2 separate regions of the Homo sapiens genome follow, and region 2 is linked to region 1. The links come from fine-mapping of genetic effects on plasma protein levels. A gene starts in region 1. The other region holds a variant in brackets. All regions are shown on one strand. Distances are from middle to middle. Region 1 holds the start of SELPLG (selectin P ligand). Region 2 has its middle 15 kb from the start of SELPLG.

The links. PIP is the chance, under the fine-mapping model, that this variant and not a neighbour inherited with it causes the effect. Sun 2018 read protein levels with aptamers (SomaScan).
Region 2: its variant is fine-mapped to the plasma level of the SELPLG protein (Sun 2018, PIP 0.95).

The regions. Positions count from the first base shown.
Region 1 is chr12:108,631,547-108,635,929 of GRCh38, reverse strand. It overlaps SELPLG (selectin P ligand), which reads left to right and starts at 2,036. Exons shown (of 2, transcript NM_003006.4): 1 at 2,036-2,190. MIR4496 (microRNA 4496) reads right to left here and starts at 120; the gene lies at 60-120. It overlaps LOC105369968 (a long non-coding RNA gene), which reads right to left. Exons shown (of 3, transcript XR_007063449.1): 2 at 1-1,599. RefSeq lists a silencer at 1,225-1,274 and enhancers at 2,515-2,564, 3,973-4,122.
Region 2 is chr12:108,617,117-108,621,499 of GRCh38, reverse strand. No RefSeq gene overlaps it. Among named protein-coding and RNA genes, the nearest start is that of SELPLG, 15 kb to the left of the region's middle. RefSeq lists enhancers at 3,119-3,168, 3,749-4,208. The variant C/T (reference allele first, on the strand shown) is at 1,320.

The DNA of each region.
Region 1 (4,383 bases):
CCTGGACTTGAGTCCTGGCTCTGCCATTACTCTGTGTGCCCTTGAGCAAGGCACATTCTCCCTCTCAGCTTCAGTTTCCTCATTTCTAAAGGCAGCTTCGAGGATTATATGAGCTGATGTATGCAAAGCACCTACCACAGGGTCTGGCATTGACCACAGGCTCAGGAAACGTTAAGCGTTTGTGTTGTGAGGCTTTGCAGGTGATGAAACTATTCAACTCTGCCGCTGCAACGTGAAAGCAGCCAGAGACAATATGTTTACACCAATTAGTGTGGCTGTGTCCCAAGAAAACTTTATGAAAACGGAATCTCGAATTTCGCACAGTTTTTATGCATCACAAAACATTTTCCAACCACTTAAAAATGTAACCACCATTCTTAGCTCACAAGCTGCACAAAACCACGTGGCAGGCTGGATGTGACAGACAGCTTGCAACCACTCACCTCCGCTAATCAGAGAGTGACCTGCAGGCAGTCTTGGGTGTGTTTAGAGTTTCTCAGTCCCCTGTCCCTGAAGGATGGCTATTTCCAAACCTGCTGGGGAAGGGTGAGGGGCCTGGGTTCTAGGGGTCTCACTTCCCCTCTTGTGGCTTCAGTTTCCCTGTCCGTGCCGGCAGGGTGAGCTTTTGGCTGTTTCCAGCTGCAGCTTCTTAAGGTGGCTGAGACTGTGTCATGGCGAACACCTGCTGGGTCTCTGGTTTTCATTTTAAAACAACCTGTGTGCGGCTGGGCACGGTGGCTCACGCCTGTAATCCCAGCACTTTGGGAGGCCGAGGCAGGTGGATCACCTGAGGTCGAGAGTTCAAGACCAACCAGCCTGACAAACGTGGAGAAACCCCATCTCTACTATAAATACAAAATTAGCCGGGGTGGTGGCACATGCCTGTAATCCCAGATACTCGGGAGGCTGAGGCAGAAGAATAGCTTGAACCCGGGAGGCGGAGGTTGCGGTGAGCCGAGATTGTGCCATTGCACTCCAGCCTGGGCAAAAAGAGTGAAACTCCATCTCAAAAAAAAAAAAAAAAAACAACTTTGTGCAAGGCAAGATATGAGTATCTTTCTGTGCATGTCCTGAGCCCTTGCCTGGTGCAAAGCCGCAGGGCAGATCCTGGGAGACCCCCCTATTCCCTCCCTTCTGGAAGTGTCTGGGTATTCTTAGGCCTCCCAGCCTTTGCCTCTGCTGTGCTCTCTGCCTGGGATGCCCACCTGGCTTGTCATCTCAAGTGCCACTTCTTGGAAGCTCCTCCTGTTAACCTCCCTCCCCCACCCAGGATGGAAGGAGAGGCCCCTCCCTTGCTCACCGCAGGATGGCACTCACTGCGCTGTGTCATTGTGGCATGATGTTCCACCGAATTGTTTACTCGCTGGCCTCCCCATTGGATGGAGGGCTACCAGAGGGCCACAGCCCAGAATTGCTGGCCTTTAGACCTCAGGGCATGCAGTCTGGAGTGCCAGAGTTGGTCAAATGAACAAATTTAGGATGAAGAAATAAGATAAGCAGGACTTGCCCTTGTGGTATCTGTAGTCCAGCTCCCTAGAGAGGCTCTTGGTTGCAGCTGAAAGGGCCTGTGCTGTGCATCTACAGAGAGTGTTTTGAGTCCTGCGAGAAGAAATACACCATATTTGCAAACCCTTTGAAGGTTCATATTTTGTGTTTTTTGCTCCCTGACCACCTCCCACCCCTCCCCACGCCCCACCAATCTTGGGCAAGAAGCGAGACCATTCTCCTTTTTCTCTGGTCACTCCTGTCCTTCAGGGGGCTCCCTCTGGCCCCGACTGTCCATTGCTGCTGAAGTAATGCTGTGGCCTTTCTCAGTTTGGGCCCCACCCAAAACCGAAGAACTTCTCCCCAGAAAGCTTCTACTTGGTTCTCAGTGTTTTCACAGTTATGGGAACCCAAGAACAGTGTCAGACCTAGGAGGTGCCCCACTACCACCCTGTCTTTATCAATGTTGTCACCAAAGCTGTCACAAACAATGGGGTGTGGGCTGTCACATGGCCCTGCCTAAGTAACCACATTCTCGCTTCCTCCTTCCACACACAGCCATTGGGGGTTGCTCGGATCCGGGACTGCCGCAGGGGGTGCCACAGCAGTGCCTGGCAGCGTGGGCTGGGACCTTGTCACTAAAGCAGAGAAGCCACTTCTTCTGGGCCCACGAGGCAGCTGTCCCATGCTCTGCTGAGCACGGTGGTAAGTGCTGGCTTGCAAAACCACAGGGAGTGGCTGGAGGTCCCCATGGGCCAAGGGCCTGCCTTATAGCTGCTGGCAGGCCCGGGTAGGACCGCCAGGCCCTTCTTGAGCTGCAGCACCTGGGGAGGGCAAACTGAGGCTCCTCCGACTCAAGACTAAAGTCTTCCTGGAGTCTGTGGCCTTATTCTGTGACTCTTCTGAATCCTGCTCCTGCCAACTTTTTTTTTCCTTCTTTTTTTGAGACAGGGTCTTACTCTGTCACCCAGGCTGGAGTGCAGTGGCACAATCATGGCTCACTGCAGCCTTAAACTCCTGGGCACAAGTGATCCTCCCACCTCAGCCTCCTGAGTAGCTGGGACTACAGGCGCACATCGCCGCATGCAGCTAATATTTTTACCTTTCCTAGAGATGGGGTCTCACTTTGATGCCGAGGCTGGTCTCAAACTCCTGGCCTCAAGCCTCTTGCGTTGGCCTCCCAAAGTGCTGAAATTACAGGTGTGACCCACCAGCCCCAGCCTCCCATTAACTTACTTCCCTCCCTGGCCAGTTTGCCTGCAGCGTCTGGCTTGGCGGCATTCTGATTTTGAAAATCAGAGAAACCATGAGTGTTTCCCTAGAAATGATCTTATCCTCTCCTTTCCTGGATGGGAAACTGAGGTCGGGAGAGGTGAAGGGATTTGTTTAGGGGCAGAGCTGAGATTAGGTCTGGAAGACTCCAGAAAGTAGGGGGAGTGCAGGATTTCTCTTGAAGCTGCATGTTATGGACGCATAAAAAAGTTCTTTTCAGAGAAAGATGCATTCTTCCCACTTTTTATAAGACTGAGGAAATGACACTTGTCTGTGGCAAACTATTAAAATATTAGAATTAAGATACTATTGTTAGCAAAAGGGAAAACAATAATAATAATAATAATTAGAATATTTGGCTGGGTGCAGTGGCTTACACCTGTAATCCCAGCCCTTTGGGAGGCCGAGGCAGGTGGTTGGCCTGAGCTCAGGAGTTCTAGACCAACCTGGGCAACATGGTGAAACCTCGTCTCTACCAAAAATACAAAAACTTAGCTAGGTGTAGTGGTGTATGCCTGTGGTCTCAGCTACTTGGGAGGCTGAGGTGGGAGGATCACTTGAACCTGGGAGGGGGAGGTCGCAGTAAGCCGAGATTGTGCCACTGCACTCCAACCCGGGTGGCAGAGTGAGACCCTGTCTCAAAAAAAAAAAAATTAGAATACTCTTATTAGTTTGTATTTGAGATACTTTCAGGACACTAAAAGGAAATGGTGGGGGCCAGTTGTGCCCTGCTGTACACACATTCACACACACACACACACACACACACACACACACACACACCCCATATTGTCGATATCTGGGCTTCTGTTGCCTGGAATTCTCTTCCTCTTTCCTCTTTCTTCTGTTTTCCTTTTTTTTCCATCTCTGACTTTGAGGCCCCCAGAGCCAGGCCCCTCAGTGGGCCGGGGCCTCAGAAGGTGGCTCCCAGGCCCTCAGACAGCCCCAGAGTCTCTTCCGAGGCCGTGCCCTGGGTGGTTGATGCCTCCCTCAGCAGGCTTGGCCAGCAGCCAGGGGAGTTAAACCTCAGAGAGCGGAAGGGCTGGGTTGCTAGGCTGGGCCCAGAGTGGGGCATTCAGAGGAGCTGGGGAATCAATCATCCGAGAACCTTGGAGGGTGGACAGTGCCCCTTTTACAGATGAGAAAACTGAGGCTTGAAGGGGAGAAGCAGCTGCCTCTGGCGGCATGGCTTCTGGCTGCAGGATGCCCATGGAGTTCGTGGTGACCCTAGGCCTGTGTCTCGGCTTCCTTTGCTGAACTTGAACAGGAAGATGGCAGTGGGGGCCAGTGGTCTAGAAGGAGATAAGATGGCTGGTGTGTGTGTGTTGGGGGTCTGTGTTTGTTAATCTGTCTGTCTACACAGGGGTGTTTAGAAAACTGTTTAAAGACAGTTGTTCAACTAACCAGATGTAGGTCTCATTGAATTCATTTGTGCCAAGTACCTTACTGCCTCTGGATCAGGCCAGCAAGTTTGGGTTCCAACAGGTGTAACTTGGTTCTTGGTGGGGTGGAGGGTAGGGAGGGGGGTGTAACAAAAAAATCTCAACTAACACTGTGGTTTGCAAGCCACCAAACATTAAACAGATATACAGCATATCTGTGCTATTAACTTTTCATGAGGAGGGC
Region 2 (4,383 bases), 14 kb after region 1:
ATTTTGCAGTGGGGGCATTTGGGCTCAACTATGAGTACAGCAGGGGCAAGTGGGAGCTGATAGCCAGGGAACAGGGTTGGATATCTGCAGCTGGAAAATTACCAAGAGGAAACATCAGGGGAAGGGGAATTCTGGCTAAACTGACTGCTGGGGATGGGTTCTCGGTCATTTTCTACACTGACCTAACAGGATTCATACTGGAGGCAGGCCAGGGTGCTCAGACATCACCGGGGGGATGGTGGCAGATGAGGAACGTGATCAGATATAGGAGGTGATCAGATATGGGAGGTGATCAGATATGGAGTGGTGGGGGGAGGGTTGTTGCTAAGCTGACTTAGCAGAGTTCTTGTTAGAACTGGATTTTATTTATTTATTTATTTTGAGATGGAGTTTTGCTCTTGTTGCCCAGGCTGGAGTGCAATGGCGCGATCTGGCTCACTGCAACCTCCGCCTCCTGAGTTCAAGTGATTCTCCTGCCTCAGCCTCCTGAGTAGCTGGGATTACAGGCATGCGCCACCACGCCCAGCTAATTTTGTATTTTTAGTAGAGATGGTGTTTCTCTATGTTGGTCAGGCTGGTCTTGAACTCCCGACCTCAGGTGATTCTCCCGCCTTGGCCTCCCAAAGTGCTGGGATTACAGGTGTGAGCCACCACGCCCGGCCCAGAACTGGATTTTAAAAGGAAGTGCACAGATGGGCCTAGGAGAGGACTCAGGGGCCTGACTGATTAAAGCTTGGCCAAGCACAGAATCTTTCCCACTCTCCAGAAGCTCACCCTGACCTCTCCTTTTCACTCAGGCCCTGTCTCTCATTAACAGCCAGTAGCTTATTGGTGATCCTAGATGCAGCCTGCAACCTTTTGTACAACTCACAGAAGCACTGATTTGCTGTCAAATGGTGGAAAAGTTCAAGCTGCCAAACTTTTTCTTAAAGGACCAAACAGTGAATACTGTAGGCCTTAACTGTTGCAACACCATAGCCTCTGTTGCAACAACTCAACTCTGTCCTTGTAGTACAAAAGCAGCCACTGACAATATGTCCATAAATGAATGCGCATGGTTGTGTTCTAATAAAACTTTATTTACAAACGGGCGGCAGGCTCATTTCAGCTCCGTCAGTTTGCTGACGCCTGATTTTAAGCATAGGGTGACCAGTCGTCCCAGTTTGCCCGGAACTTTCTTGATTTTAGCACTGAAAGTCCCATATTCCGTGAAACTCAGCCCCAGTAAACCAGGTTGGCCCTGCTATTTAAGCAACACTTGCATTATCCCATTCAAAACTCACACTACCTTGTGGGGGTCAGGTCACCGCCCAGTGGAT[C/T]CACCTTGCCTGCTGCCTAGACAGAGCCGATTTATCAAGACAGGGGAATTGCAAGGGAGACAGAGTAATTCATGCAGAGCAGGCTGTACAGGAGACGGGGATCAGAGTTTTTAACGACAATTTGGCGGGTAAGGACTTGGGAAGTTGGGAGTGCTGATTGGTCAGGTTGGAGATACAGTCATAGGGGGTTGCAGTGAGGTTTTCTTCATGTCTTCTGTTCCCGGCTGCGATGGCAGAACTGGTTGAGCCAGAATACCAGCCTAGGTGGTGTCAACTGATCCATCCAGTGCGGGGTCTGCAAAATATCTCACGTAGTGCTCTGAGGTTTTACAATACTGATGTTATCCACAGGAGCAATTTGGGGAGGCTTAGACTCTTGGAGCCAGAGGCTGCATGACCCCTAAACCATAATTTCGAATCTTGTAGCTAATTTGTTAGTCCTGCAAAGGCAGATCGGTCCCCAGGCAAGAAGGGGGTCTTTTCGGGGGGAAGGGATATTATTAATTTTGTTTCAGAGTCAAAACACGAACTGAATTATTTCCCAAAGTTAGTTCAGCCTAACTTTGGGGAAGGAATGAACAAGGACAGCTTAAAGGCTAGAAGCAAGATGGAGTCTGTTCGGTCTGGTCTCTTCCACTGTCATCATTTCCTCAGTTATAATTTTTGCAAAGGCAGTTTCAGTCAGATTAGAAAACCAGGATTTGGAGAGTTCTTGCTCTTCTGCTCCCAAATACCTTCCAGTCATTTCCATAGAGAGAGAAAGAAGCTGCCGCTTAAACAGACTCTGTTCTACCTTCTAGGAGAGGAATAAAAGTCATCTCAGGGGATAGTCTTTATTTTTCTTCTTGAAAAATACCTCCGGCTGGGTGTGGTGGTTCACGCCTGTAATCCCAGCACTTTGGGAGACCGAGGCAGGAGGACGGCTTGAGCTCAGGAATTTGAGATCAGCCTGGGCAACATGGTGAAACCCCGTCTCTACAAAAAATACAAAAATTAGCCAGGTGCAGTGATGTGCGCCTGTAGTCCCAGCTACTCAGGAGGCTGAAGTGGGAGAATCACTTGAGCCTGGGAGGTAGAAGTTGCAGTGAGCCAAGGTCATGCCATTGCACTCCAGCCTTGGCAACAGCAGTGAAAAGCTGTCTCAAAAAAAAAAAAAAAAAAAAAGAAAAGAAAAGAAAAGGAAAAAGAAAAAAAATACCTTCAATGGCCTCTTTGGAAGTGAAGGACTTCTTTCCTTGCCCCCAATGGTTTATCCCGGAAAAGGGGAGTTCACAGAGAAGGTTGAGTCTGGCAGGGGTTGGCTGTGGCTTGGGAGAGAGGGGTTGGAGGAAAGAGACAAGGGAAAGGTAGGAAAGAGCCGTCAGGGGGAAAGGCCATGGGACAGCATCGGGGAGGAGTGGGGAGAGGGCCCACACATATTGGAAATGCAGTGTCTGTCTCCTCCCCTGAACTTCTGGAAGGATCAAATCTGATACACACAGGCAGGTGTGTTCAAAGTGTCCTGGGGGTGCTGATGGAAGAAGGTGGGAGTGTCTGCCATGGGCTGGGTCAGTTAACACCCGGGGTCGGCAGGCTGATGGGTCAGGAGAGACTGAGTCTACCTCCCCTTTGGGAGGGATCAGAAAAATCAGAGAAGGGGAGCTGAAGGCTCCACAGCAGGGGGCTGTGGACTCAGGCTGAAGGACCTCTGAGTTGTTCCCCAGGGATCTTGTCACCTCGTCTTCCTGGGAGCTTTCCCCTATTTCCTGACAGCTCCTGAGGATGCTGTGTAACCACAGATTTCCATTTGCGTTGGAAGAGGGCCACCTTCCCTTTACAGTTTTCTCTCTCTCCAAGGTGTGGGATTTCATTCAGGGTGGGCGAAGCCGGGTGCTTGAAGCGGCCACCAGGGGGCGCCCGCCGCCAGCTCTTAGAGCAGGTGGAAGCCTGCGTTTCCCTTGGGCCAGACTTGGAGATCATTTAGCCAGGAAGGAGCCCCAAAGCCAGTGGCGTGCTGTTAAGTGTTTAACAACTGGCTTCCAATGGGAAAAAGTCCTGATTTGTAGCATTTGCCAATGTCTTCCATGTAAATACTCCCACAGCCGATTTTGAGCTACCAACCATTATATAGTTGATGATACAATAGGTGTTAGTAACAAGGGCATCGATCATCGGATAATGTAGTACAATTATTAGGAATTGGTGAGTTTTGAGTACTGATGACCTTGGCTTTTAATATAATAGAATTTAATTTATTAAACAACTGACACAAAATTCTGAAAATTTTGTTGATTAGCTCTCACGGGCAGATATAGTCTGGCTCCTGCACACCCCTGTGCCCTCCCCTCCTGCCTGGGCCTCCCATGCCCTTGAGGACCACCAGCCTGAATCACCCCACTCATCCATTCAGCAAACACATCCTGAACACACACACAGCTGCAATATCCCCGTGAATCCCCTCAAACAGCTCTCACAGACGGTTCTAGTATTCTCCCCATTTTACAGAAGATGAAACTGAGGATGAGAGCTAGGTGAAGTCACCTGCCCCAGGTCATGAAGAGGATCTGAGATTGGAACCCAGACCTGAAAGCCAGGATCTTACCACTGTGTCACGCTGTCCTTGAGATCACAGCGGGGTTCTGGGGGAATCCCACGCCCCAAAACCTCAGCCCTGCTGACCTGCCCTGGGGCCTGGAAGTCCCCCATTAGTCACCCTCTGTGGCTCCTGGCTGCTGAGGGAAGGCGCTGTTCCTTGGGAGGGTAACCGAGTACAGCGCAGCCCTCTCATTGCAGAGAACACAACACAGCAGAGCTGGGGCCTAGGACTAAGAGGGATGGCCGGGGGCAAGCAGCTGGCCTTTACTGAGCACTTACTGCATACCTAGTGCCTTGTCAAACAGTTTGTCTGCATTATCTCATTTAGGACTCAACCTCATAATGTGGGTGCAATGATTGTTCCATTTTCTTGCCAGGGAAACCGAGGTTCAGAAAGCTGAACCACTTGCTCCAGCCGGTTGCACGGTTAGGAAACCACACTGTGCTGACTTCAGCTCTGCCAGCAGGGAAGGAAGGAGGGTAGACAGGA